Regions from separate parts of the Homo sapiens genome. Here region 2 is linked to region 1. The links come from fine-mapping of genetic effects on gene expression. A gene starts in region 1. The other region holds a variant in brackets. All regions are shown on one strand. Distances are between the middles of the regions.

What was found.
Region 2: its variant is fine-mapped to the expression of IL1RAP in whole blood (INTERVAL, PIP above 0.99).

What each region holds. Positions count from the first base shown.
Region 1 is chr3:190,501,196-190,517,441 of GRCh38, reverse strand. It overlaps IL1RAP (interleukin 1 receptor accessory protein), which reads right to left and starts at 3,357. Exons shown (of 12, transcript NM_002182.4): 1 at 3,223-3,357. RefSeq lists enhancers at 2,167-2,666, 2,667-3,168, 3,921-4,010 and silencers at 3,421-3,770, 12,308-12,602.
Region 2 is chr3:190,556,247-190,571,753 of GRCh38, reverse strand. It overlaps IL1RAP (interleukin 1 receptor accessory protein), which reads right to left. Exons shown (of 12, transcript NM_002182.4): 3 at 7,401-7,465. The coding sequence starts at 7,464. Among named protein-coding and RNA genes, the nearest start is that of IL1RAP, 50 kb to the right of the region's middle. RefSeq lists an enhancer at 4,698-5,897. The variant C/T (reference allele first, on the strand shown) is at 4,957.

The DNA.
Region 1 (16,246 bases):
CTTTGCACATTATTCTGTCTACTCTACTCAGTACCCACAAAATTGTCAAAAAAAAAAGTTGAATAATGCCATGGACACTCATAACATTTGTTGTTCAATCTTCTTCCCAGCCTTTGAACTAGCATGAGGATGGCAGAGGGAAGAAACCACTCACAACAGGAAGAAAAGAGTGATATAATTCTGTACTTTATGTCTTCTTAGTTAGTACCCTTTCTCTTAGGAATCAAAGGTGTATTACATCCAACACAGGAGAGTAGGAAGGTTGTCTTAGAGACCATTGCTTTAAATACCCTCTTATGACAGTTGGCTCCACTAAACTCTACAGAACTGTGCTTAAGGATTGTTCTCTTTGCAAGAAAATACCTGCTTTTCAACAAAAAGGATATCCTGAAATAACCAGACAAATAAGGTCAACTTTATAACTGAAGTAAATTGTTAAATATCTCATTGGCGAGGAAACAGAGTGTGATGGGAAATGCCCTAAACTAGACATGAAAAGGTGTGAACTGTATTCCCAGAGTTGAAACATACTAACACATGACCTCTAGCAACTTTTCATTTCTCTGAGTCTCATTCCAGTTATGTTCTAAATAAATTGAGACTAGCTAAGAAGAGATATCATTTAATGAGCACCTATTCACTACATGTACTTGACATTATTCTATTGAATTTATTCGTTATACAGATTTTTAAAGTAAGCATTTTTTTTTTCCATTTTAGAACTGGATAAAACAGAAACTTCAAATGATTAAATAAACTGCTCAATATCACCCAACTACTCAGGCATGAGAGCTGGAATTTGAAATCAAGTAGGTCTGACCACAAAACCTGGGCTCCTTCCTCTATTAATATTCTTGCCATGTCCTCCCAGGGCTATTGTGAGTAACAAGGAGTATCATATATACAGAATGCACTTTGGAAATTTTAAAGTTCTATACATATATATGGTTTTGGTAACAAGTAATAATCTGTATGAAGATATGGGTATAATTGACCAACCTTTCTTTGAAGAATCAGAACCAAAGGAATTAGCTTTTAATCTCCCTTCCATCCTCATGATCTGACCTTATTTTGAACATTTTCCTTTTCCCCCACAAGGCCCCTGTCTCTCAGGCACACATTCAGTCATATCCCAGCCAGCTCACCACAATGCATGTACATGGAACAAGCTGATAGAAGCAGGTGATCCCATCCTTTACTAATGCTTGGTGCGGGAGGTACTTAAGTGGGCACCACTGGGCTCTTATCTTCCATCAAGATGTATCACACTCTGTTCTCAAGCACTTACCAATACTGCATACAAATGCTATGGCCTGTGAAGGAGGCAGCCAACTACAAATGCTGGACACTCAATTTAAGGACGCATGGCAAAGCCAGTAGATAGTAGTAAATTATTGCATGAAGTTCATCAGAATAAAATCAATTGTCATGAGAAGGGTTAAGGGTGTGGGAGGGAATCCATTTAACTTTAAAATACCAATAATACAGGAAGACTAGTGTGGGCATGTGAATGTCTGTGTGTTCGTGTTTAAATAAGGCAAGTTTGTGTCCAGAAAGGTTTGCATTTAGCAGCATCTCTGTACAATCCAAAAGAAATATATGAGAATTTTGTTTGTTTTCTGATACTAGATGAAAAATGTAAGGTTGCTCGACTGACCTAAGAGAGCAAGGATAGAAGGCTTAGAATAATCTGTAACACAGCTGCAACTTCCAACTTTGTCTTCTTGTCTTTCTGCCTCTCACCCATTTCAAGACCCTCTTTGTCAATAAAGGATGTCTCAGATCAGGGCAGTTCACAGGCCTGAGGTTTGACCTAAAAACTAGTAGGAAATTCATATCACCGAGAAACATCAATTTTACATTTCGAGCTAAGCATCCATGATCCACATCACATATGGACAACATTCAGAAAATTCTTATTATAAAAGAGTTGCTCAAATTCAAAAGAAGAAAGACACCACATTTACAGATTTTTTTAAAATGCCTCTGTAAGATGGTATGAAATCACCTTTCTGAAAACCCACTGTCTGCAAGGTTACTATGTAACAATATTTACAATAGTTGCCATTGGTTTTGAACCAACCAGATGCCAGGCCAGGCACTGTGCTAAACATGCTACTTGAATGATCCCATTTCATCCTTCCAACTACCCAAAGGGCTCATTGTGACCATTATAAATCTCCATTTTTTGGCTGGAAAAAAAAAAAAGGAAGAAAGAAAGAAAAGAAAAACCCAGTATCGGAAAGGTGAGATAACTTGCCCAAGTTCACACTGCTAATACATGGAAGAGCTGGAGTCAAAACTCAAGTCCTCTTTCTCATCCAGTAGCTAAACCAGGGATCTGTACAGCAGAGCAGCAGAATGCTTCGCGTGGCGCCCTGGTTCACAATTTCACAACCAGAAGGTGGAGGGAAGACAGGCTGTGGGCTAGCTCTTAAAGGAAACAGCCGAAGTTTGCTTTTATGTTTGTGATTTTCTCTTTAACTCAGCTTCCTTGCTCCCTCTCAGTATTTAGAAGAGGGAAGGGGCTCTATGGTTCCATGAAGTCAGCTCTTCCCAAGTGAGGGGCACCCTGTGCCCCACAGGGCCACTAGCTCCGCTTCCTCCGGGGCTGGGAAGAAACAGTACCATAGGAGGTCACTGGCGCCCGGGCCTCGCTCCTCTCTCCCCGCGCTCCTCCAGAAGCTGGTCCGACACCCTCTGAAGGGGCATCTTTCTGAGAAAGCAGGTCAGGGGAAGAGGGAGTGAGGCTGCAAGCAGCATTTTCCCAGGCTGTCACAGCTCTGCGCTGAGAGCGACGTGATACCGAGTGGGCGTGCTGGGACACACCGCTTCCTTCTGTCCTCGGCGCTTCCAGCAGCGGTCTGGAGAAACCAAGGAGGAGATGGGGGCGGGGGGTGGTAGCGGGGAGGGGGCGGTGAGGAGGAAAACAAGGGTAGACCCCTCAAAGGGCTGAGGATGGGGGCGGCAACGAGCAGACGTCCCACAACCGCGTTACTTAAATCCCTGCAAAGCAAAGATGGGTCTCTGAACGTTTGGGTTCGAATCCGGGCTCCAGTCCTAACTAGCAGTATGACCTATCCCAGCCGCTGCCTCGTTCTGTGCCTCAGTTTCCTCTTCTGTAAAGTAGGAGGGTTTAACGATAGGATCTCTAAGAATCCGTCTACCCTGAGATTCTGCGGCTTGGTGACTTCTGAGCCCTCACGGCGGCGCGAGACTCACCTTTCTTGGGAAGCTGAGAGGGCGCAGCAAAAGCAGCCGGGATGGGTGCAGTGTCGCCGGGCACTGCTTCCTTCCGCGCCTCTGGCCAAAGCGGACCCCGGAGACCTGGATCCCGGCAGTCTTCCCCAGTGAGCCTCTTACTTTCCGCCGCACTTTCTTTTCCCCCTTTGGGGCTCCTCCCCCGGAGCGGCGCGATTGGCCACGGCCTCACGGCTCAGGCTCCACCCGCCGCCTTGGCTCGCGATCCACCGGCGCTCTGGGCTTCCAGGAGCTGCGGCCGCGGGGCGGCGTCCTGGACGGTCCCGCCCGCCGCCAGGAGGCGCGGCGCCGGGCCCGCCTGCGGACGGATGCAAGGCTGCGCTCGGCCCCTTCGGCTCCCTGCCACCGCCTGTGCGGGCTTGAGCGCGCGGGGAAAGGAGAGGGTTAGTCCTGCAGCGCAGCTCGGCACGCTGCCAGGCGCTGTGGGAAGCTACGCCCCTCACTACACACCGAGGCGCACACATGCGCTCATTGCAAGATCGTGCTCTCGCAGTTGAGATCGGTGCCACCCTGCCCTTTCTTCCTGTCTCGACGTATTTAGCAATCATGCTGCAAGGCCTTGAATCAATTCAGACTGCACGATTTTCGCAACCACCCTGTGCCGGCACAGAGCGCGGCAGGATGTAGATGCGATCTCCGCAGTCCTGAGCTCTTGCTGTCTTGAACTGACATTCATATGAGCAAGCAACAGGACATGACAGCAAGACTAAATCTGTATTGTCCACTGGTAATATACCCATTGCCTAGCACAGTGCCTGGCACAAAGTAGGCACTCAATACATGTATGGGGAACGAATAAAAGAACTAATAGGTTACATAGAAGGAAATAATCTCAAAACAAATATTTGCCTTCATTCATTTCCATTTCCCCAAGTTTTTGCAAGAGCCTTCCTTCAGCTGCCCTCTGCCACTGTAGATGGTAGTCTGTAATATATCCCGGGAAGCGTTATAAAGGCTTTCATTAAGTCATCTCTCTTGTTCAGGCACCTTCTGCTGTGTTCCTACTGCTAGTGCCTCATGATTTTTCCTGACTGGCAAGGCCCTTCATGACCTGTCCCCATTTCTGAAACCCCCTAACCAAAGCCACCTACCAGACTGACGAGTCTTCGCACATCTTCTTGCTCATCACATCTTCTTTTCTCCTCCTCCTACCTAACTGAATCCTACTAATTTATTTTCAAGAATCAAGATTCAGAGAAAGCATTTAAGGAAAAGGAGAAAAAAGATGTGAAATAAGAAAAGGGCCCAGGTGAGTGGGAAGGAAATGAAACCAGCAGGTGCCCGTGCTGCTAAAGGTGCACAGCAGTACGAAACTCAGAGGCTGCCCCTGCCCTGGCGGAGCTTCAGTTCCTAAGGTGAAATATCAGTGTAATTGGAGCCATAGAAATGTTCATGATACTTTACTTCTTGACATCACTTATGAAAATTAATTGCTCAAAATTTTTATTTATCTCAGGATACCTGGGACCCAGCACCTGCTCACAACATTGTCACTGAACCAAAGAGAAAATAATCCAAAAGAATTTAAAATGTTACCTGTATGAAGCAACAATAAAACATTTTCTGATTTATTATTCATTCCTTAAATATATTCTGGGCACAGACTTTTATATATATATAGTACACTGAAGCATTTACACAGTGCTTACAAAATAAAAAGGTGCAATCATAAGGACTTTGTGTATATTAATTCAGGTAACCCTCAATACAACCTGGAGGGTGCTATTATTATCTCCAGTTCATAAAGGAGATAAAGGGAATTTAAATAACTTGACCAAGGCTACAGGCCTACAAGTGGAGAATACAAAATGAGACTAGAGACACTCGACGTTCATGCTCTCAGCCGCTACTCAGTCTCATGTACTACCTAGAAGCCAAACAGATGCTAGTAATTCAGAATTGAACCAGATGTATATTCCCGGACATTGAAGGGCTACTCATAGCTTAAGGAAGATAACATTAAGATGAATAATCATATAGACAAATATTCATAGTATATTGTAGTTTGAACACAATATAAATGGTTGGAAATGAAAATGATTAGTTAACCAACGCTGTCTACGCACAGAATAAAATATTTGCATCATAACTATCATATTATGGAAATATGTCTACAAAGAAAAAGGCTTACAAAATAAGGTTGAGTAAAAGTTGTGGAGAGATGAACACCAATTGAAAGGAATGTGAAAAAATGTTGATATGTTAGGATTACAGAAATAGAAACATCTCTTTTTCCTTTTACATTTAAGTGAAATAAACCAAGCACAGAAAGACAAATTTTGCAAATTCTCACTCACACGTGGGAGCTAAAAATTAAACAAAGGAACTGAGATATGAGAGTAGAATGATGGTTACCAGAGGCTGGGAAGAGTAGCAGAGGCAAGGGAGTTGTGGGGAAGGGAGGATGGTTAACGGTTGCAAAAATATAATTAGCTGGAATGTATAAGACCCAGCACTTGATAGCACAACAGAGTGACTACAGTCAACAATAATTAATTATGCATTTTAAAATAAGTAAGAGTGAAATTGGAATGTTCCTCAAAGAAGTGACAAATGGTCAAGGTGATGACACCCTGTTGTCATTACCCTGATGTGATTATTACACATTGTATGCATGTATCAAAACATCACATGTCACCCATACATATATACACCTATTATGTACCCGTAATAATTAAAAATGAAAAAATGTTATGCTAACAATTGAGAAAAATATTTTAAAGCTATACCCATTAAATATCCATCACATACTAAACATTTGATGAATAATAGTTGCCTAAATGAATAAATGAAGCTACAAATTCATTGATGTCAGTGACTAATACTGCTGGATGTATAGAAGATGCACAATAAAATATTTTGCAATTGATTGATGTATTTGGAAAGGTATTATTATTCTCTTCTTCTCCCAGCTTTTACCCTCCACCTTTTTTTTAGGTTATCTTTAATTATCTTGCTGTAGCTGTAAGACGCATCAGGAGTTTGCTAGTCTCTTGAACCCAATCCATTCAGACATTTATCTCTACCACTCCACAGTCAGCATCTGTAATGATCTTCACTTTGCCAAATGTGGTGATCAATTCTCTGTCTTCATTGTACATGTATCAGCAGCATTAGACACAGATAATCTGTTGCTCTTTCACACTCTCTCGTACTTGACTCTTTGTTTTTCATGTATTTCATCTGCTGTTCCTTATCAGATTCTTATTGAATCCTCTACCTCTTCATGATCTCTGAAGGTTCCAGTGTCCTAGAGCTCAATCCTTGAAGTGGTTATATTCTCTACCTAGGGGAACTCAGACAGACACATGGCCTTCTAAAATATCAATATGATAATAACTTGCAAATCTAAATCTAAAGCCCAAACCAGACTTTGTATACCATATTACCTCCTTCATATCTCCTTCTTGGATGTTTTAAATACATCTCAAACTTTACATGTTCAAATTCAAACTTTATTTCTGCCCCACACCAAACCAGAGCTTTGTAAGCAACACTGTCTTTTACCCAGTTGCTCAGGTCAAAAAGTTGGAGTTATCACTCTCTCTCATTGCCTGTACACATTATATCCACAAACCTTCTGCTTCCTCTACATTCAAAACACATCTCAAATCCAACCACGCTATTCCTCTTCTCCATCACAACCACCATGGTTCAAGTCATTGCCATCTCTCCCCTCACTGGTGTCCCTGCTTAAACTCTTACCCAAAGAGTCTATTGCCCTTACTTCAGAGACCCTTATAAATGAAAATAGAATAAATACAGGCTAGTGATTGAGGTCAAGGAATCTGAAGCCCGACTACCTGGGATCAAGTTTACATAATGTGGTCAAGTTACTTAATTTCTTTTTTTCACAGTTTTATTCTCTGAAAAATATGAATAACAATGACAATAATATACATTATAGTGCTGTTTTTAAATTAAATGAGATTATATAAGTAAAACACTTGGCATGGGGATTGGCATGTAGAAATGCAATATAAATATTCATTATTCTTTTACAAGAAATATGTCATTCTCTGCTTTCAAATAGTGATTTCTTATCATGATCAGATAAATTTCCATAGTCATTTATGGCCTAAAAGTCCTTGTGTGGCCCTACATGATCCAGCACTGAGTTGCTTCTTTCAATCTCCCATAGCATGCTCCTTGCTGTCGACCAAACACACTAACATGTTCCCATACTAGGGTGTTTGCACCTGCTGTTCCCCCTTGCTGGACCGCTGTTCCCCTGTTGCTTGTTCTCTCCTCTTACTCACATCTTCATTAATGTCCCTGCTCCACTATAACCTTCCCAGCAAAGCTTTTCCTGACAACCAAGTCAAATAATACATTACGTAACATTTTAATTAATTTACTTATTGAATGCTGTTTTCACTAGAATGCTAACTCCGGGAGGGTAATATAATGTTTCCCTGGCAAACAGACAATATTTTGCACGTAGTACTCATTGAATAAACATTTGTTGAGTTACAATTCAGTCCAAAACTCTCATGGTTAAACTTTGATACAAAGATATTAAGTGACTTATATATCGCCCTCTTCCTTTGATTTACATTTTTTTGGGAGATCAGAATCATTGGAAGACAAAAACTAAAACAACAAATTATATATATATATATGTGTGTGTGTGTGTGTGTGTCTATATATATACGTATATATGTTTAATATATATACATATATATACGTATATATATATACACGTATATATATGTGTATATATTTGGCTGGGTACAGAGTAAAGAAAGCACATTATAGAGACATTTTATTTTGAGCTTTTGGAAGGAAGGTGAAGGGCAGGAGCCAAGAGAAAAGAAAAAAAAAGTGAAAAAAGGAAAAAGTAATTATATCACCTTCCAAACCCTTTTACGTTTCCACCTTTTATACCCCTCAGCTCTTTTCTCCTCCATCCCCAGCTGACCCTTGTACCTGTTCTCTGGGTGTTCACATTTCCCCTCGCAGCACTTAGTTATGCCTGCCCCCACTTCCTCTGTGGTGCCCTGGGTTTCCAAGTCAGGTATCCCTCTTCCTTTTTATTGCATCTGTTTCTGACAAAAGCCTCTCTTCCTTCAGTTTGATTCGGCTAGGTGTAGGGAAATAAGCAGATTAAACAGTAATGATAAGGTGTTGATTACTAAGAGCTCAACTCTACCTTGTTGAAGAGATATGCTAATTTGTTCAAACACATATACCCAACTATTGAAATTCAAGTCGTTTGGAAGAGGAAATTGGAAATTTGACTGTGCAGTGGGAGGCTTCACTCATTTCTTTTCTTTTCCTTTTTTGTTTTTTTTTAGACTGAGTCTCGCTCTGTCGCCCAGGCTAGAGTGCAGTGGTGTGATCTTGGCTCACTGCAACCTGCGCTTCCCAGGTTCAAGTGATTCTCCTCCCTCAGCCTCCAGAGTACCTGGGACTACAGGTGCCCACCACCACTCCCAGCTAATTTTTCTATTTTTAGTAGAGATGAGGTTTCACCATGTTGGCCAGGCTGGTCTCGAATTCCTGACATCAGGTGATCCACCCACCTCGGCCTCTCAAAGTGCTGGGATTACAGGCGTGAGCCACCGCGCCTAGCCAGCTTCACTCATTTCTATCCTTCAGACTCACTACCTGGGTTACATGCAGTCCTGAAAGACAAGAGGGGAAAGGGGAACTTCTGGAACCCTTCCAATCTCTATTTATCTGCATAGGGTTGAAGCTGACTCCCATCACAGGGCACTACTCCCACGTGGAGGTGTCAAAGAGAAACACTGCCTGACGTTAGTTAAAGCCATGAAAACAGATTTTATTTAGTAACTATTGATAGCAGAGGAAACAGCTGAGCTTCATTCCTATTTGTGTAGAGGTTGTTTGGCCTTTTAAATGGAGAATGAGGGAGGTAGCAGAGCAGGATCTCAGTAGAGCCTGAGAAGTGAAATATTACTAAGGGTTTGATCAGTGCAAATGACTAGCTGTGCTAACTGTGACTGCTGCCTGACACTTATTGAAGTTAGAATTCTATTCTCCCACAGAGATTGGGAGACAGAGGCCCCATCTTTCCTGGTTATTACATTTAAAGGAATGGTGCACAGGTCCCTGAGAGAGACACTACTGAGTTGTAAAATATAAGCATTCACAAAAGTAAGCATTTCTAAGTTGATTCTCTAAGAAGAGGAGGTCAAGAGCCTATAATCAGGTATTGGCTAGAGCAAACAGCAACCTCCTGGGAGAGTTGAGCTTTCTCAAGCAGGCGTTTTAATATGGAGCTGGGGTCGTCCTAGGGACATGACCTCATGCTGCTAGAAGCTATGCTAGAGTTTGGTCAAATCATTTAGTGCAGGGCTTTGGATAAAGTTAATATGTTCTTCCTGGCTAACACCGTGAAACCCCGTCTCTACTAAAAATACAAAAAATTAGCCGGGCGTGGTGGCGGGCGACTGTAGTCCCAGCTACTCGGGAGGCTGAGGCAGGAGAATGGCGTGAACCCGGGAGGCGGAGCTTGCAGTGAGCCTAGATCGCGCCACTGCACTCCAGCCTGGGCGACAGAGCCAGACTCCGTCTCAAAAAAAAAAAAAGTTAATATGTTCTGAGAGTTCTGCAGTTCTCAGAGGTCAGTAGATACTTGTAGTAGCAGAATCAGAATCCTATTGTCTGAGTTGCTTCTCCTTTAATGTCTGACTTCCTGGTGATGCTCCTCCAGTGCCACCACAGGGCAATATCAGTGAAGGTGACAGGCAAAGGCATGTTTTCCAAAAGACAGCCTGTCTTCCTGGCCTATGGCCTAAAGCTCCTGGAGGCTGTTAGAAAGGACCTACTTTTCTTTCCTCGTTTTTCTTCTTCCAAACAGAAGCTTTGAAGCAAAGGTCAGGATTTTAATAAAGTCTTGGAGGATGGTTATTATGCATTATTGACACTTTACTACATCAGGAAATTCAAAGGCAAGAACTTTGCATGCAAAAAGGGAAACTTGCCTTTATGGTTCTAACTTGGCCTTGTAAGTAGTTAAGACATTTATCAGCTTCTAGCCTCCAACATCTGATCTAAATGGAAAGAATGTTCTTCATAGAGATACTATCACCTGTATTATTCCATAAGCTAAACCACTACAGTATTTAAGGGCAGACCTAATCTAAATTGGTCACAATCTGGTGAATAACAGCCAATTGGTGCCAGTTAAAATTGTGCTAATATGTGCTTGTTCTCACAGCAGGATGAGTGAACTGTGCCATTCAGTTCTATTTTTTTTGTGCAGCAACAGGAAGACTGAATGATCCACTAGCAGAGAGGCACTTATATTATTCACCTTTGGAGAATAATTTTCAAGTACTCATATGAGATGCAGAGACTTTGTATGATATTCTTTCTCTGCCACCAACATTGAGAAATTTATTTTATCTTTTATTCATACATCTTTTCAAACGTGTTGAACATTTGCTCTACATGGACAGTGTGAGCATTGCTGAGATACAGTAGCCACGGTTCCTTCATTATAGGCCAGAAGAGGAGAGAAGAGAAGAAGATAAAATGTCTACATGGTTGTCAATACAAGGTTGAAATAATATTTCCTCTTCATTGAGCAATTGGCATTGAGCATGTGACAAGCCCTTTAAACATCAATTACTTCTAAACCTCACAATATCCTTAAAAAGTAGAAATTGTTTCTCTACTTTTAGCAATGAGAAAATGGAGTCAGAGAAGCTGATTTATCTAAGGCCACACCACTAGTTAATGTTAAAGCCAGGAGCAAATCCCAGGTCTAACAGAGTCTAAAGGCCATACTTTTCCTATGCTACACTAAGGTCAGTAAGAAAGTTAAAATATAGTAACATCGGGGTATTGAGGAAGGAGTATTCTTTTTTTTGAGGGAGTCTTGCTCTGTCGCCCAGGCTGGAGTGGAATGCCGTGATCTCGGCTCACTGCAACCTCCACCTCCTGGGTTCAAGCAATCCTCCTTCTTCAGCCTCCCTAGTAGGTGGGATTACAGGTGCCTGCCATCATGCCTGGCTAATTTTGTATTTTTAGGAGAGACGGGGTTCACCATGTTGGCCAGGCTGGTCTCTAACTCCTGACCTCAGGTGATTTGTCCAACTCGGCCTCCCAAAGTGCTGGGATTACAGCTGTGAGCCACCACGCCCGGCCAGAAGGAGTACTTCTATTTAGAGCGTATCAAGGAAAGAAAGAGAGAGGGTATCACTAGAAGAAATTAGAAGGAGAGATCGAATTAAGGTTTATGGTGACCAAGGAGGAAGGTGTGAGACGTAATGGGGCAGGGGAAGAGTATGCATCCATTCATCCACTCAGGTACTATTTGTTATAAAAATAAAATAACTGCAGAATAATGTGGTGAGTGCTTTATGAAAGATGGTATGGTACTCCATGTAAGCCCATTGGAAGGTGTTTCACACACCACTGAGAGGAGGGAAGAGTGAAGCAGGGTCAATTTTCCTACTCTAACCAGAGAACATGTGGCAGATGTTGGAAGAAATGGTTAGAAAACTATACTTGAATCAGGCATCGGAAGAAAAGGGGTGGGGTGAGGGAAGATATTACTTATGCTACTCAAAAAGCAAAACTGTAGCTTATCTATTTGCCTTTGTGTTCCAGAATGGTGTTTGACAGAAAGAATGCTTGAACAAACAAATGAGAACAAATAAATGAGTTACTGATTTCTGCTGAGAGACAGGTGCTTTTTAAGTCTGTGCTTTTTGTTTAACCAATATTATGTTATCACACCATAGGATCTTCATGAACTGAGTATTTATTTTTTCTATTTAGGAGATATAGAAAAATCTGAGGCTCCAGAAGGTAATATGGCTTGCCCAACATTGCAGAGCTAGGAATTCAGAAAACTGGATTTTAAAGTGTGACAACATTAAATTATTTGACGTGGTTGTCAGGTATAATTTCTTGTAATTACTTGCCACTCTCTGCCTTGTTCTAAATGACAAAGTAAGGCAGTGCTATGTTATTATTATTTTTTATTATATTAAATCAACATTTTATTGAGGTGTAACATGAATACATAAAACTGCACTAATCATATATGTAGAGCTTGATGCCTTTTAACAAAGGAAGTACAACCATGTAACTAGCATTCAGATCAAGAAAATCATACTGCTACAGGCTGCATACTTTTGACTTAATATAATAGTCAATATCTTTATTCCTGTTGGCATTAAATACTTCCCCTTGTAGCTTTTATTCATGCACGCACTATTCCTGGAAACTCATGAGCTATTGAGTCATAACTTGCCTAGAAAATGAGCTTGTTGGTGAATGATAGCTTCTCTTTGGGGAACATGTGTGCTCCCTCAACTGAGAGGTTGTCTTTATTAAGTAAGAGCACTTGAGGTAAACCTTGAGATTATTGGGCCTGAGGCAAATTTGGCTGACTGAATTCCAAGCAGCAAAAGAAAAGCAGCAGTGAGACTTCTGCATCGAATTTTTAAGATGATCTATAATTAACATACTAGTTTGTAATATATTTATAATTGTAACCTGTAAAAGTTAAAATAGCCATTCAGATAGCCCAGATATAGAACCCTGGAGATGGTAAATAGGGGTGGAGATATAGAGAACAAAGGGGTCTGTCTAACTGCTAATTCACCTAACTGCTGCTAGATGGCCTCAGTTCCAGTCTAGGTTTGGCTGCAGAATCCCTGTCTGTTCTCGACACAATCATTTCTGCTTTCTGAGCTTCTGCTTCCTAACCTTTAAAATGGTCTGAACTGCAGTATTGTCCTAGAACAGTAGTCATCAGCCGTTGCTAAACATCCAAGTCACCTCTGTTTTTCAAATTTCCTTTTATAGGTTTTTGTATGGTTAGTTTTGTATTTAATAATAGAGGTGCCCAATCCCTATCATGACTCTTAAAACTGAAATTTGATAGAGGGAATGACTAGACTTGCTGATTCCTTAGTGGTCTTCCAGGATGATATACTTTGAATATTTTTCCCCACCCAAATTTCATGTTGAATTTGTATTCCTCAATGCTGGAGGTCGGGTCTGATGGGAGGTGTTTGAATCATGGAGTCAGATCCCTCATAGCTTGGTGCTGTCTTTGTGATAGTGAGTTCTAGTGAGATCTGGTTATTCAAGAGTGTGTGGCACCTCCGTCCCCACTACCCCCTCCCCACTCTCTCCCTCTCCTGCTTTCACCCTGTGGGGTACCTGTTCCCCATTCACTTTCCTCCATGACTGTAAGCTTCCGGAGGTCCTCACCAGGAGCCAACCAGGTGCTGATGACATGCTTTTACAGCCTGCAGAACCATGATCCAATTAAACCTCTTTTCTTATAAATTACCCAGTCTCAGGTATTGCTTTACAACAATGCAAGAACGGCCTAATACACAGGACAATCTTTCTAAGATCAGTTGGGCACAGTGGCTCACGCCTGTAGTCCCAGCTACTTGGGTGCCTGAGGCTCAAGAATCGCTTGAACCCGGGAGGCAGAGGTTGGAGTAAGACAAGATCATGCCACTGCACTGTAGCCTGGGTAACAGAGTAAGACCTTGTCTCAAATAAATAAAGAAAGAAAATTTTAAAAATGTATTTATCAGAGAGAATAATGCCACAATTTTTGTCACAAGAGGTGATGAAATTTAAAATACATTTGATAAAACTTGCACATATATAGTTATTGAATATAACCAAAATCCCACAGGAAAGAACAATTAAGAGATGACTGTGTTTGTGTATACTTATTAGCCTCAAGCGAACTATATATTCCTTCCTTTTTCAGACCTGCTTTTACATTCAAATAGGCTACTATATGAAAATAAAGATTAAAACAATTCAGTTTTTAAAACAGTAAATGCAAAATCCTGTATTGTGTTCCGCAGGAAATGCAACGTACACTTAAAAAGATCAATTTCTAAAACGAAAGCTATGACAACTATAGACATTCACATTTATACTGTGGAATACAACACGATTTGCAGCTGAGAAATCAAGGAAAGGTTTCATGGAGTTGATATTTAGGATCAGTATCGAGAGACAGATAGGATTTTTCTAGAAGAGAGGAAGTTGTGAGTCACTTAGACAGTAGAAACAACAGGGGTATAGGCAAAGTGCATGAATTTGCACAGAAAGGGAACAGAAAATGGTCTAGTTTTTTTGACTGAATCTCAATTCCTGGGAGTAGGTATAGATAAGGTAGGAAAGACTGATTGCAGGCTAGTTATGAGGGGCCTGGCTATGTTAAAGAATTGTTTTGTTTTCTGAAACCATGAGAGGTTCTTGAAAGTTGATAAGGGAGAGTTGCTTAAGGTCACACGGGTAATAAGAACTAGAAGAGTTGGACTGGAAATCAGATTGTATAAAGTATAAAGTTCTTTGTATCTCCCCCAACAACCCAAACCTGGGTGGTAGGGTCATGGAAGAATACCCATGCCAAATACACCACACTTAAAGATCCTTAGACTTTTCTATAATAGCCTACATGTTTGGAAGTGGGATTCTTTAGAAGTAAAAGACAGAAATGACATTTATAATAAATTTTTCCCTCGTGGCTTCAAGGCCTCCTTCAGGCTAGAGGTCAACAGTTACCTATCAATGCAGAACAGCAGCATGCAGTAGGTTGGCATCGAGAAGCACAGAAGGGGACTGCATTAGAAACTGCGCAGGGAATTTTAAATTGGCCGAATGTAATTACCCATGTTGGAATTTGGCCAAGGTCTCAAGATTTAATATCACCACTCATTCTGGTCCCTGTAAAGACCCTTCATGGTCACAGACCTTAAGGTTATTATTCCTTTAAAATTCATGGGACAGCATTTCTCAGCCTTTCCCCCAACTGAAGCCAGGACCCTTTACTTTCTTTACTTGGCCATGTTGCTTCCAATATGGCTTTGATTGCTGCTGCTGACACCAAGACACTTTCACTGCCCCGAAGACCATTTTATTTATTGGTGCTATGTTTCCAAAAGATGCATTTTCCTCCGCCAATATGTTCAGCTGGCCACATAATAGCGTAGACTGACATTTTGGTGACCATTCAGGAGAGCAGCAGATTGTGTAAATTTCACAGCTCCCGTATGTCAATTCTGAGGTTCCTTGAAAAAGCTGTACAGGTTGACCTTGCTTTAAAAAAATGAATCATAGAAATACAGCAGGAGGAACAATCTAGTACCACACTTCAAAAGTTAGAAATATGTAATTAATGATTATGCACATGCACATATAGCTTTATGTGATAAAAACTAAAATATAACTAAAATTAAAAATATGCACAGAGGCAATATTGCAGTATATTTGTTATGTAATGAGACAAATATCCAAATTCTAATAATTAAATACACAAGTATGTGATCAAACCATGAATAAATAAGGGAAGGTCGTCACACCAAAAACACATGGAACAGTATTCAATTTTAAAATTGTGCCAGTAATCAAAGACATGCAAATGTAGATAAGGGAGGACATTTTTACATGTGTCATTGAAAAAAATTAAAATTAATTTCACTAATACAATTCTGGGATTACAGGTACACTGTTACATTTCCATAATGCTAAAGTTATTAGACACAATTCTTTGAAGAAGCAATTTGGCAAATAAGTCAAGATCTTCAAAACATATTTTTCAAACCAGAAATTACAATCCTGGCAATGTACTTAAAATAATAATTCAAACCAAGAGGAAAATGTATTAACATAGATATTCACTGCAAAAACAATGTTGACCAGGTGCCAATAACCAGATATATAAAAACTCCCATAACTCAACAGCACAAATACAAATAACTTGATTAAACAATGGGCAAAGGACTTGAACAGACTTAGTGTTTTCAAAAAAACCAACCAACCAAACAAACAAAAAAAACATGGCAATAGCCAATAAGCATGTGAAAAGAAGCTCAATATCATGAATCATTAAGGAAATGCAAATTAAAAACATAATGAGACACTACTTCATACTCAATACAATGGTTAATATTTGAAAAATAAAATAAAAAGAAATAAAATAACAAGTATTGTTGACAATGTGAAGAAATTGGAACTCTTGTGC
Region 2 (15,507 bases), 55 kb before region 1:
CACGGGTTGGACAAGCTTGCTTTAAAGTGATAACAGTGAATCTAAAGTCTTCTCACTCCAAAAATGGTAACTATGTTAGGTAATACATATGTTAATTAGCTAGATTTAGTCATTCCACAATGTATAAATACTTCGAAATGTCATTTTACATATGATAAATACAATTTAATCTCTCATCTAGTAATAATAATAAAGGTCTATATTTCAACTATAGTTGTACTTTTTTTTGAGAAAGAGAGAGACAGGGTCTTGTTCTGTCGCCCAGGCTGGAGTGCAGTGGCGTGATCACAGCTCATTTTAGCCTTTACCGGCCAGTCTCAAGTGATCCTCCCACCTCAGCCTCCTGATTAGCTGGGACTACAGGTGTGCATCACCATACTCAGCTATTTTTTTAATTTTTTTTTTGTGGAGTCAGGGTCTTATTATTTTGTGCAGGCTGGTCTCAAACTTCTGGCCTCAAGCAATCTCCCCACCTCAGCCTCCCAAAGTACTGGCATTATAGGCATGAGCCAGTGTGCCTGGCCCATAGTTATACTTCTTATGCAAGGGTAAGTAATTAGGAAAAAATAAAACCCACCATAATAAATTAATAAAAAGCAATAGTTAACAGAAAAAATCACACATAAAAAAAATCATGATCGATGTGCCTGTTTTCTTTTTCTTTCCTCTTGAGTATCTACACGTATGCAGTAGGTCCTGGAGAAGGTTCCACTGAGGAAACGTAATTGGCAAATAGACTAAATTGGTCAGTCTTGGTAGCACTGGGTGGCAAGTCCAAATCTCAAAGAGACCATAACATTTTCTTACATAAGGGAAGGGGGAAACGCAAACACCAGTATCTTGGTGCACATATCAAAATGAACACTACTATAAACCTTAAAGAGCACTTTAAAAAAAATATGAAAGTAGCCTGCCATTCCAGCACTTTGGGAGGCTGAGGCAGGCAGATCACCTGAGGTCAGGAGTTCCAGACCAACCCGACCAACATGGAGAAACCCCATCTCTACAAAAAAATACAGAATTAGTTGGGCATGGTGGCAAATGCCTGTAATCCCAGCTACTAGGGAGGCTGAGGCAGGAGAATCACTTGAACTTGGGAGGTGGAGGTTGAGGTGAGCTGAGATCGCACCATTGCACTCCAGCCTGGCAACAAGAGCGAAGCTCCGTCTCAAAAAATAAATAAATAAATAAATAAATAAATATGAAAGTATCTCAGAAGTAAAAAAAAATGGGCTGATGGATAAGAGCCTTAAACTATTTCAGACCCTACAAACACTGCAGAAAAGTGCTATTTATTTCCCAGTAATGTATAGCTATACCAAGCATTTTGGTTCCTATGGTAGAAGGAGAAATGAATGTCATAAAACACAACAGAATATGGTCTAGGTTGCTGAGGAAGTGATTATTTTATTTATTTTCTCTCATTGTCGTAGTCATCTTGCATTTTCATTATTCCCACTATCTCTAAAACACGCAAAGGCAAAGCCAGAAAATTTTGTACATCAGCTTTTATAGGTTTGGATAGCAGGTAACTTGAAGGTGACTGAGGTTCCCAAATTATTTGTTAAATGTATCCATTTTCTCACTGTTCCTCAAAAATAAATGAGAGATGGCAGCACTCAGTGGATTTAAAAATAAAGCAATCATTGTGTTGTTATCCTGGGTGGGTATATATTTTATTTTCTAAAAAGTTAATCAGTTAAACAGAAAAGAAACTTTTTAAGTGGTGAAAGAAAAGTGGGTAGAAACTGGTCTTGGTAGTGAGTCACTGCTAAGGTGGCAATCTGGTCCCTAAAATATGGTAGAAATGAATATTCAGGGTTGGGGGAGTGAGGGAAAGGATAGCAAAAACAAAGGTAATTCAAAGGGTAGAATAAATTCTTGTAAAACAAACATTTTTTCCTACAACGGTATGCAGGAGTTCCTACAAAAATACTGGTTTCCTTTAACTAACACAGCCATGTGAAAAAGAACCAGGTCATTTTTCTAAACTTAGAATTATCACTGTGATACAAGAAGCTGTGTATTTGCAAACTCAGTATCAAGCCAATTATGTGGTACTTAAATTTCTTTTCAATCAGGCTACAGTAAATCCACCCTTGGGAAATATAAGTAACTAAAATATAAGTGTGCTTCAAGCTATAAACACAGCTAAAGAAAAAAAAAAAAGTGAAGAGATCTGCTTCCGAGAGGCATCATTTAAATGACAACAGGGTGAAATTCTGTAATTCCAATGACCTTTAGGACTAAGAATAAAATGAAACAGTATTCTTCATACATTTTCCAAATGTTTGGACTAAATTACATAGAAATGAAGAGTGTTCAGGATGACCAGCCATGGGCAACTGGGACAGGACACAATGTCACAAGTATATCTGAGCACGGAGTTATTAAAGCAAGGATATTCAAATAAAATGAGGCCACTGGGGCTGGTAACAAACTGAATTCTTACCAAAAGGTGAAAGAACCATCACATAGAATTAATAATAGTGTATGTCCTTGCAAAAATACGACAGAATTTAAAAAAAGGAAAAGAAACCTAGCCAACTATAACCAAAATACATTAAATGTGGACATTCTCTTTACCTGAAGTAATTCCCGTCCTGCATAATTTGTTCCCAACCTACCTTTCCAGCTTGGCTTCTAAATGCCTTTGCACTATCTTTTGAGTTGCCCTGAACTATTTCATTCCCAAATAAGAGATGCGTTTCTTCCTAGGAAGGAGCAATGATTAAGTCTTCCCCAATATCTCCTGATAGGATTGGTAACTTTCTCTGCTCTCACGGAATTCTATTTGGTAATTATTTCCTCTTCCTTCTCTCAAACTTTACTGTATTCCTCTTAAAATAAGAAATTCCTCTTACTAACCCTGGATTCTACAATCTAAAATGGTCAAACGCATGATCTTTAGAATAAAGTGAAATCATTGTTAACATTGTTATTAGAAAGAATTTAAGTAGCTAATAGGAGTATACCCTGTGTGTGTCCATGATGCATAGTGTTCCTTCATAAAAATCAAGAAACTGGAATTGACTGGGATCTGCTGCTATTGTTTGTTAATTGTTTGGTTGGTTGGCTTGGTTTATAAATAAGGATGCAATGACAAAAAGTGATGAAATGACCCCTTTACTGTCATCAAACAAGTCACAGAGTAAAACAGAACTTGAATCTCTCAATTACTAGGAAACCACAGTGTTTTTTACTATTTATTTATTTTGCATTGTATAATTCACTCCCAATCATTGGATAGATGATTTCCATTCTCTACCAATTTTGTAAAATATAATGGAAAAGGAATCAGAGGATCTTACTTCTAGTAGCAGAGCACAGTCCTAAAGAAAGGCAATTATAGTATGGAAAAATAAAAAAGAGCACTGTTTCTGGAGTCAAGGCAGCCTGGCTCTATCAGGCAAGCCAGGCTATCATGAGCACTTGGGCCACCTCCCTGGATCTTCATTTCCTAAACTATCAAACAGGTAGAAGAGTCTCCAGCCCCTACCCCTGTACAATGGTTCCTGCGAAGTTCCTGATAATGTGTGTGAAATCCAGCCCTGCACCTGGCACACAGTCAACTGTTGACTTTGAAATAAAATCTTTCTCAAAGATCCGTGTGTGTGCCTGCATTTTGGGGTGGCAGTGTACTCTCTTTTTCATGTGATTTGTCCAGCAAATAATTTTGATATGGTAATATTTTTTAAATTCACTATATTCTATATGGTGCTATTTTTATTACCTCCTCAACTTGGGATCACAGGTTCCAAAATTTATGTCTACTCCAAAGGCAGCTTTTAACAGTTCAGCTTCCTGACACACTGCCAATGAGGCACAGCAAAAGAGACGTGTATTGAGCTGAAGTTTCCATTTCGAAGTCTTACAAACAGAACTTCTTCGAGTTTATTAGTGAAAATATTTAATACTATAATAAGCAAAAAAAGGAATATTGGGTTTGAATTTTGTATTACAATCATTTTCCTCCTGAAGAAAATGTTTCAGTGCTGTGAGGGGGCAGGATAAGCGTGTAAGGATATACCTTACCTACAAAGCATAGAAACCTATCACAGAGTGGTTCTTCAACAGTTTGCAAAATGATTACCTGTGATCCCTTAGATCTTAATCTTTTTTCTTAGTAATTTATATTCTAATAGACCCCAACTGGAGCATATTTCGTAAAAATAATATGGATGTCAGGAATCCAGAAACTCGTTGAAGTCACAAGCATGCTAAGTATAGCTGTGTGACTTCGAGTAATACAATTAAATACTTTGATCCTAACTTGTCTTACCCAACAAAGGTAGTTACAACAGCTCTGACTACCCCATGGTTTGGGTGTGAGACTGACATTGAATATGTACAATGCAAACTGCTTTTTTAAGCAAAGGGAGCTTTATTATTATTACTATAACTAGCACATTATAATTATAGAATCGCTATTATAATTATCCAAGCTTTAATTCCTTAAAGGGAAATAAAGCTTTCTTAAAAAATCATTTGCTTTTATCATCACCTAAGATGAAAATGTTGCTCCCCCATTCCTGAGGGGATAAGGGGATCACAGTACTGCTACCAGAAAAATCATGATCGGAAGTCAGAATCGTATGACTTCACGGCCAGTTCACTGCGTGTGAAAACACATTGCATGGCGCTAAGTTCTTATGCTTTTATGGTTTCTTTTTTATATTTGAGGATTCTCTTAAAAGGCCCACATGGAAGGACTCAGAACAAAATAAATGTCTTACTAATATGATACGCATGTAGATTGCTTTAGGGTTTTCAGAACATTTCTGCTTTGTTCCTCACATCAACCTGTGTTTCCGTTGAGATGGGAACCTGAGCACAGGGAGAGCCTCATGAAAGACCAACAAATCTGTCAGCATCCACAGATGCCTTGTAAAAGGCAATACTTTCATGTGCAGAGAGGTTGGTTGATCCCTCAAGATGCGCAATGATTTCTTTCTT[C/T]CCCCACTAGCCCAGAGCCAGTTGCTCTTTTCGTTTTTGTCAACAACATGTCCTTTTTGTTCCTCTCCCTCCAACTAGGAAGTGGCATCACTGTCAGACACAATACACCTCTTCATAAGGAAGGCAAATGAGTACGTGCCAGATGGGCTGAGGGGATTACAACATGTTTCCTGCTCCCACGGTGACGCAATGTGGCTGGTATGAGAACTTATCTTATTCAAGAAGTTAGCTTCCCCTGGCAGAATTATGAGTCACAGTTCCTGGATAGAAAGCTCTCTTACCAACAGCACTTGAGGTGGGGGCTGGGGACTCCTTGGATGGATTACAGTAAAGGTCATTCAGAAAAGTAACATGGTCAGGACTGCTGGGAAGGCACCAGCACTCATTAGCTTCTGGAACCTCCATGATCCTTCAGCAATGGTAACACAGTCACCTGTCCCTCTTCCTTCAGGATGAGGGAGGACATAAAACCACATGATGAATTACTGGCATGAACCCAAACACGTTCCATTATAAAACTGGACAGTCTGGGGGCAGGGGAAAGGATGTAAAGGGACATGTATTCAACCATTTAACACCTATGTATTGAGCATCTGCTATGTGTCTATGTGTCAGTATTATTCTGAGTGTTTGGATAACAAACAAAAGTTCCTGAACAAGTTCCTGCCCTCAGGCAGCTTAAAATCCAAGACAGAGGGAGGGAAGGAGGAAGAAAAAGAGATGGAGAGAAAGGAAAGAAGGGAGGCAGAAAAGGAGGAAGGACAGGGAGTTCAGGAAGAAAAAAAGGAAGGAAAAGGAGGAGGAAACAAGAGAAGAGGAAGAGGGAGGAGGAGGAGAGAAGAGAAAGAAGGCTAATATAATATCAGGGAATGTGAGTGTTACAAAGAAAACTAAAACAGGATGGAGGGAGAGAGAGTGACTGGTAGGGATTTTTAGTTAAGATGGTCAAGGAAGCCTCTGTGAGCAGATAGCATTCAAACATAGAACTAAATCAAATAAGAACAAACTAAAATCAAGAATTATATTTAACATATTTGAAAATCAGGACATCAAGAAACTCACCTATCAAACGCGACACCTAACCAAGCAGGACAGATGCTGGACTAAACAGCCAAGGAGCTGTCTCCTAGCGCATCCCAGCCGAATAACATCTCCGGTTATCTACAGCCATTCCTCTGTGAAGCCCCAAAGGGCCAACAAGGCTAGAAGTTACTGCTAGTTTCAGCACTGAGCTGTACTCTGTCCTACTTATACCACTCCTTTAGTACTATTTTTGGTTTCTAATACAATGTTTTATGTGGCATAGAAAAGCTGAAACGCACCCAGAAAAGATGATCAGGATGGTAGGAGAGCTCAAATCCATGTCATATGAAAAACAGTTGAAGGCATATATTGCAGAACACTGAGGTCATGGTTATATGGTAGCTAACTTAACATTGCAGAAGCCCTCTCACAAAGAAAAGGAATTAAAGCAACGATATGTAAAGTATGGTTTATGGTGTTCAGGGGAATTTTACATGAAAAGCTTTATAAAATGAGGACCTCTAGGTTCCCTTCATTACAATTAGAGAACCATTGCATTAGGTTTTGGTTGTTTTGTTTGTTTGTTTGTTTGTTTCTTTTTTTTTTTTCAGTCCTACAGTTGAACCAAGTAAATGTTTGGAAAGAGACAAATTTCAGTTTTAGATACTAAAATCAAAGAGACAAATTTCAGTTTTATGTACTAAAAACTTTCTAAGAATTTGATTAGTCCAAAAACATAGGCTGAAATGTAATGATTAATAGTCAGAGATAGAGAGTGATTCTGGGCATAATTCTGGGAAGAAGAGGAGATCTGAAAAGATGGACTTTCAAATAGCAAGTCTCTTCCATATCTAATTTCACGTGATCCAGGCCCATGATGACTGAGTTTGGTTTTCAAACTCTATAAAGGTCTTAGCTGGTTCCTCTTATAAAGCAACATCCAGAGAAAGAATGAGTCTAAAGACAGATCCTTTCTTTTTCCTATATAGAAACAATATGACAAAAACTCATTATTTTATTTAACATCTCAATGGATTATTACCACTGATAACTTTTCCACCACTGGCTCAAATTTGAAAAACAGATTGTGCTATTATCACTCCCATTTTTCCCCCATAGGACCTGAGGTAAGGGAAAAAAGCAATATTCTAGTTGGCTGAGTGTGAAGGTAATGAAAAATACCTGTGTTTAAACACAGCGGCCCACTGCCCCCTGTGTACTCTATCCCATGAAGACTAGAGACAGCAATGGTTCTTTCCATCATCAAAATTCTATTATTCTGCTTTATGATTATTTGCTACCGCAGAAGACAATGGACATGAATAACATTATGTTTATTTAAATTCATTTTCAGGAAGAGTGGACTCATTACCCTACGCATGACTTGCATTTTAATACATTGTCAAAAGCCATTCACTTACCTGAGGCATCACTTTGCAGGATTCCATAAAAGTAGAGACTCACTACACACCACAGAAGTGTCATCCTGTAACCATAAATACAAAGGTAAGGGAAATCACTTACTACTTTCAAGGGCTTAAATAATAATAACTAGCATTCATGCCTGCTGACTATAGACTAGGGACTGTTCTAAGAATTTTACAATATTAACAAATTTCATTGTCAGAACCAACCAATAAGACAGGTTTTATTTTGTTTCTGTTTTTTTGTTGTTTGTTTTTCAATTCCCATATTACATGCAGATAAAGAAGTTTAATACACAGGTTTAAATAACATAACTAAGATCCTTTGGCTAGAGACAAGTTTCAATAACATCACCACGATCCTTTGGCTAGAGAGTGGTAGAGCTATGATCAAACTCCAGCTTTCTGGCTCCACAACTCTCTTTTTCACTGAACTATAACTGCCTACTTAAAAAATATTCATCTGGATTTTTTGACCAGGATTTACATTTCTGGCAGATAAATTCAACCTTCTTACCCCTCTTTGCATTCCCTTGGTCTATTTCTAGTTGGAATACTTTACAATCCAGGTACTTTTCCCTTTTAGTGACACATAGACACATAGAAAGTCTAGAAATCCTGGATTCAGACTTTGTCTGCAATCTACCATACTGTGAATTTATATTAAGGAAAATATATAAATCTAATTCCTGCTGTTCGTGCTCTCCTCTTCTCACTGGAAGACAGAAATGATGAGGGAGGAGTCAACTTTCTATGATCTTTCGCCTTCCTATTAATAACCAGCTGAAACAGCCAACTGCTGTGAACCATACCCTTACATTTGGTTGCATGATATTTAATGCTGAAGATGTGGAGATTTGACAGCTCTGTGAAGTATTTCTTTTTCTACTACCCAAGAAATATCTGGCCACTGGTAAAACCTCTGTGGGTTATAAATACTGAAACCTGAAGATGATGCAGAAATTCCATGCTCAAGAACTCTGCTTTCTGTGTCGAAGGTAACAGCCATATAAGAATGCTTGCAGAGGTCTTGATAACTTGTCCAGCTCATATTTCCAGTAAGTGACAAAGATGCTATTTATATCCACATTAGGCTAACTACAAAGATTATTATCTCAAATAGCCTATGCCACAAGTTTCACAACCACAGGTATGCAGCAGCTTAAACAGATCAAAGAGGTATTTGATAAATAAGATGACCATATAACATCATTTAAAATGGGCCAATTTTAAGAGCATTAAATTATAACAAAAGATATAAACTACACAAGGAATCCAAGAGGTGTGGCCACCCTAAAGGACTATGCAAGTTTCCAACTCCCGTCACCTCTCTTGACCACACCTCTCCAAAAATCTCTGGTTCATGCTTCCTTTTTTAGCCTGGTTGTACACAAATCACAGGTGAGCTCGTCATATCACAAGCTGTTGTTTCATCTGATAAATTAAATGATGTTTTCTTCCCAGCACCTCTTCCTTCCAGCTCTTATATTATGACCTTGGGGAAATCTTTTTCTCTCCATCAGTCTTTCATTTATTCAATAAAACATGTATTGAGCATTTTCTCCTTCTTTTCCAAATTTTTTAGTTTGTGTGTGTGTGTGGTTATGTAGCAGATGTGTGTGTGTGTGTGTGTGTGTGTGTGTGTGTGTGTGTGTGGACGAGATATGTTTTGATACAGGCAAGCAATGTGAAATAAGCACATCATGGAAAATGGAATATCCGTCCCCTCAAGGATTTATCCTTTGAGTTTCCAAGTTGCTATGATACAGCTACGAAGCCTCTCATGGGCAAAATGTAGGGTCTTCTCTAAAGGCACTTTTCCACAGTAAAGATGAACCCCCAGCAAGACACTTTAGTATCATCAACTATGTATAGAACACACATCTAGAGACACTTAAGAGATAAAAAGAGTTACCAGACAGAAATTCTAGCACTAGGCAGGGTCTAACAGAAACTTAAAATGTGCACCAAAAAAAAAACCCCCTGCAATATGAAGTAAAAAGTGATAAAAATAGAGAGGAACAGATAAGTGTTATTGAAGATTAGCAAAGGAAAGAGGTCACTCCAGCCAAGACAATAAAAGAAGACGAAACACAAGAGGTGACATTTGAACTGGTATGGATATTTAGACTTGAGACAGAAGGAACATGTGAGAAAAAGAAACTTTCAGTGGAGAATAATGCTCAAAGGTAGTGAAAGCATAGAACACAAATGGAAAATAGTATATAAAGAACTGAGTTTTGCTCAAGCACAAGGTTTTAGAAAAAGAACTACAGAAGATTTTGTTGGAAAGCAGACAGTGGTAGAATCATAATATGGCAAAGCCTTAAATAACAGGCCAAAGGCTTGGGATTTAAAGAGCAAATAGGGAGTCACCAAAGTTTTCTGAGTAGGGGAGCAACATGACCCTCAAATTGTACTTTATAGAGCACTGCCAGGCGCGTATTAGATAGATGGCTGCTAAATTCTGTCTTGAAGTCATTTTGGCTCCTGAATCTGTTATCACAATAATTGCTATCTTCCTAGCTTTGTGACATCTACAGACTTGATCAGCATGCAACCTATATCTTCATCCAAGTCATTAATAAATGTAATTAATAATTCTGCATTAAACTTGCCAGCAAAGAGCAACTAGAGATTTCACTGCATTCAGGGAACCGTAATTTCAGCCCCACTTCTCAGCTATGCTAAAGCAATACGCCCTCCCAAATTGCTGTCAGCTATTTAAAAACCCCCACATACCTCTAGATTTTCCCAGTTTGCCTGTTTATAAGCTGCTGAATTCCTAAGGCAACATTTATAAGACATTCTAATTAGTGTGATTGAGGGCCTTAATTGATATTCCCAAGAGTAACTGGATTATGCTGAAGGCAGCAAAGAGTCAGGTCACCAAGGCAAAGCTAATCTAAAGATAACCTGTCTGCGAACACACATCCAGGGCCAGTCCTGCCCTGTGATGAATTAGAATAAAGCAGACTGAAAAGGAAACGTGATTGAACAGGCTGGTTTTGACAGATTAAAGGTACCAATGTTATTGGGAGGCGCCTGGCTGATCTGAAACCTCTCAGAGAATGCTGGGTCATTTAGCATTGTCTTGTATTCAGCCTTAGAATTTTATTATCGTAAAGAGTAATACACTTTTGGTTGTTGCGTCTTAGAGTGAGAGGGTGCTGGGTCAGAGATGGAGGAACTGTCAGAAAGCAAAGGGACGTGGGTAATAAACACAGATTCTCAGTGTCTAAATTAGAGCTTAGCTTTAGATTATTGCAATGGGGCCTAACAGACCCTGCTGTTGCTTCAGATGATTCTAACCTACATATAATATCTTCCCAGCCTTTCCTGCATTATCCGTGTAATTTACTGCATGATAATCCTCATGCTCCCTCCCTTATCTTTTGGTACATCTCTCATATTTAATCCTATTGTTTCCCAGTATATCAACTTTAATGACTATATCATTTAGCAAGAAGATTTAAAATGTACTTAGTTCTCTGTAATCGACGACAATGTTAAAGATGGGTCTTCACGTGCTCAGCACCTTAACATCTACTTCCGCATATGAAACTTTTTATCGTCTGCATTCTCTAGACTTGGTAATCATTAGCATCTCCTTATCTGCATCACTCTGACCACTGAATTCTCTCACCTAGCCCGCAGGTGACAGGCTGAAACTAGGTTTGCTGTGCCAAGGGTGGGATTTGCCATGAATCACCATTTGTTCTGCCTGCCTTCCGCTCAGCAGCACTTCACCAGATCACAGGACTGGATTTGTCCCTCAGTTTCCTGATCCCATATATAGCTCTATACTCAGAAAACACCCACTTAGGCCTTCAGCCTGGTGCTCGTCAGCACCCTCTTCCAGGAGCCTACCTTATGTCCCTGTAAAGACTTGCAGTCAGCTAGATAAACCTCCTATAACCATGAAACTGCTAAACCTGCTTCATTCTGCCATGGTTGACTGACACCCTTTTCTATGACCTGCCCACTGAAAACTACGACCATTCGCACTTTTGAAAACTTGGCCATTCACGCCAAGGAATACACCCCAGAAGGCCATCCCCATAAAAGGTCAACCCTGTAGTCAAATCACTTCCTTGAGTCCCAATCCTGCCCTAATCCCATTCAGATCTTTCCTTTTATTTTCTCTAAGTTACTGCAAAAAGTCTGAGTAGGTCTGGCATTTCTGTGGTTACCTAAGATACAATGAACAAGCCTTTGAAGAAAACAGGAAAAGCTACTAATTATTCCATTCTACACAAAAGGGATAGCATTTAGTAAGACATGAGAGTTATTTTCATCATCAGTCTTTTGTGGAGTTTACAGGGCTTTTTTTGAAAATAGGATCCTTGTGCAGAATATTTCAAATCTAATATTTATCAGCAAATGAAAGTTTTGGCAAAGTGACATGGAAGACTCTGATTTGGGGTAAAATGAAGTAAATATTCTTCATCCTGTCTTTGCAGTTATAAAACGCGGGCATATTTGATGGAACAACTGTTTGAGGATTCTAAAAGTAAAAAATAAGGCATTCTTTTCAATAGGACATTCACCAGATACACCGTATCATGTATCATAAATCAAATTTTAACAAATTTAAAAGAATTCAAAGTATGTTCTCTCCCCATAGAATTAAACTAGAAATCAATAACAGAAAGATAATAGGAAAATCTCCAAACACTTCAAAATTAAAATACATGCCTTAAAATAAAGTATATATGGGTTGAAAAGAAAGTTGTAAGGGAAATTAGAAAATATTTCTAACTTGACAAAAATAAAATAAAACATACCAAGTGTGTGGGATGCAGCTAATGTAGTGATTAGAGGATAATTTGTAGCACTAAAGGCTTATCTTAGAAAAGAAGAAAGATAGCAAGCCCATAATCTAATCTTCCACTTTAAGAAACTACAGAAAGAAGAATAAATGAAACAAGCATAATAAAGGAAATTTTATAGAGTAGAAATCAAATAATTTCAAAACAGGAAATATATACATATAGAAAAATAAAGAAACCAAAAGTTAGTTCTTTGAAAAGAACAATAAAACATAAACCTCAAGCCAGGTGATACGTTAAGTAAGGAAAAAAGGTACTATCACTAAAAATAGAAATGAATGATGGGACATGACTAGTGATCACGGAGATATTCAAATGGTAATAAGGCAATATTACAAACTCCAGGCTCATACATTCCACAACTTAGATAAAATGGACTAACATCTCAAAAACTACAAACTACTAAAGCTCAGCTAAGATGAAACAGACGACCTGAATAGTCCAATAACTATTAAAGGAATAGAAATATATTCATCTCCAGAGTCACCAGAAAGGAACACAATACTGCTGACACCATCATTTCAGCCTTACGAAACCCTAAGCAGGGAACCAGCTAAGCCACATTGTTCTTGGCCTTCTGACCCACAGAAACTGTGCAACAATAAATGGGTGCTTTTTAAGCAACTAAGTTTTTGGTAATTTGTTAAAATGGTACTAGAAAATAATAGAAGAGACATACCATATTCATGAACTGAGAAACTCAACATAGAGAAGTCAATTTTCTCCAAGATGGCCTAAAGATTTAGTTAATTCCAATCAAAATCCCAGAAAGATTTTTTCTAGCTATAGAGAAACTGATTCTGATATTTATATGAAAATAGAAAGCCCTAAGACATTGAGAAAAATTTTGAAAAAGAAGAATAAAGTTGGAGGAATCATACAAGAAACAACTCAATTTTAAAATGTTTAAGTCATAAAGAAACACTTTACCAAAACGATATGCAAAAGTCAAATAAACACATGAAGAGTCATTCAATGTCATTAGCCATCAGGGAAATGCAAATTAAAACCACAAGGAGATACCACAATACACCTTTCAGAATGACTAAAATTAAAAAATAAATACTGACAATACCAAGTGATGAAGAGGATGCAAAGCAATTGGAACTCTCATACTGGTGGAATATGAAATGTCCATATACCCTCTCTGGAAAACAGCAGTTTCTTAATAAAGTTAAACATAAACTTGCCATACAACCCAGTAATCTCACTCTTGGATATTTGTCCAAGGGAAATGAAAACTTACTTTCATACAAAAAGCTATACCTGCATGTTTGTAGAAGCCCTATTATTAATTGCCTAAAGCTGGAAACAATTCAATTGTCATTCTACAAGTGAATGGATCAACAAATTCTGTGGCATCCAAAAAAATAGAATAATACTCAGCAATACTAAGCAATGAGCATTATATATGTTGATATAATAACTTGGATGAATCTCAAAGGCATTGTGCTGAATTAAATAAACCAACCTTAATAGGATGCCTATTGTATGATTCCATTTAAATAACACTCTCAAAAAGACAGAACTGGAGTGACCGAGAACAGATCAAGGGGTTAGGGATAATGGGAGAGTATGACTGCAAAAGAAGGGCACATGAGAGTTGTTTGGAGAAACAGAACAGTTTTGTATCCTGTTTGTCACAGTGGTTACTTGATTCGATACATGAGTTAATATTCAAAGAGCTGTACTCCCAAAAAAGTTAATGTTACAGTGCATTAATTAGAAATATATTTTAAGTGGTATGATTTTTCTTTTTAAAAACTCAACAAATGATTTATGGAGCCTTTTTGACAGTTTAAAGAAAGGTGTTTTAACCTAAATATGGTTTCTATTTTCAACATTTACTTTGAAAATAACACAGCCTTGTCATTAAGCACTGAATATTCCAGAAATGCCTAGCAGTGGAGGTACATGGAGAGATCAATGAAATGCCCCAACTTTCAGCTTACCAAGCCAGTACTGCTAACCTTTACTGATATAACAGCAGAGTCAAAGTTCATAAGAAAACATTAGCACACTCCTCTTAGATACTGCCTTCTCCCTTTTTAGGAAATAGCTTCAAAGTGCTCAGCACTCTGAGAGGACATATATACATAATATACCACCTGCCATCTTTAGAAGCTTGGAATAGAATGTGAGCAGATTGATTCCCTTTTGTGCTTTAATATTTTGAATAGCAACATGCTCTGTGGGGTGAGGTAAGAAATACCATCATGAAGTCCTGTCCCTCACAAGGGAGAACTAGAACTGGGTTTTCAGTGAGTGGAAGGTGAAAGAGCAATTTAAAAAGAGCACTGAACTTGCAGTTCCTAGTTTGTTTGACTGTGTGATACTGGAGAGCCTGAGAGAAGAGGTGAGGAATATTCATACTGACCTCTTAGGAAGATCTGTAACTAGCTCACTGTCTTGATGGTTAATTCAAGACTGATGTGCTAGGGGTTCATGGATCCTTCTAAACAAGGTAAGGAATTGTTCCATTGTACCCTCTCTCCAGAGGACAATTTGATGATTAAGTATTTCTCTACTTAGGGACACTGAGGCTGGGGAATGATAGAAACTAATACAACTACCTCACCATTTGTTGAGAGGAAAGTCTTAACAATTGCTGTAAAGTGCTTAGCACCATCCAGGAACACAAATTGCTCTCAGCAAATGCTGTTTATCATCAACTCTTATTAAGTGAGATAATAGATGTGAAATAATTGAGGAACTATGGAGTAGTAGACAATGTGAGCTACCACTAATATTATTTACAAAAAAGAGCCCAAATTACGTGGTTCAAGTTGACCATTGAGTATTTGGCAAAACTTGCCATGCCCTACACTTTGTGTGTACTAGGTCCAAGTTTAGTGCTCTATTGTCAAAATATTTCAAAGAAGATAGTTTTAGTTGTCAAGTCTGGCCTTGACAAATTACAGAAAAGCCAAGATTACTGTGATAGCCTCTATGATGAAATTGGAAATTGGAAAATCGTGGCTCAGGAGGTTTCCCTTCTCTAGGCCTCATATCCTCATTTTTAAAATAGCAGTAAAAATCCCTGTGCTGACTATCTGATAGGGTAGATGGAGAGGATCAAAGGATGTGACATGTGAAAACATACATATGTGTGTGTGTGTGTATACATACATATATATATATAAAAAATGCTATATATTATGACAATTAGTGTTTATTATGAAATAAGCTAAAGTTTTTGCTTGGTTTTGTTTAAATTTGAAAGAAACTGAAGGGGTAGAGAACTTAAAGTCGATAAGGAAATGTTTTATAAA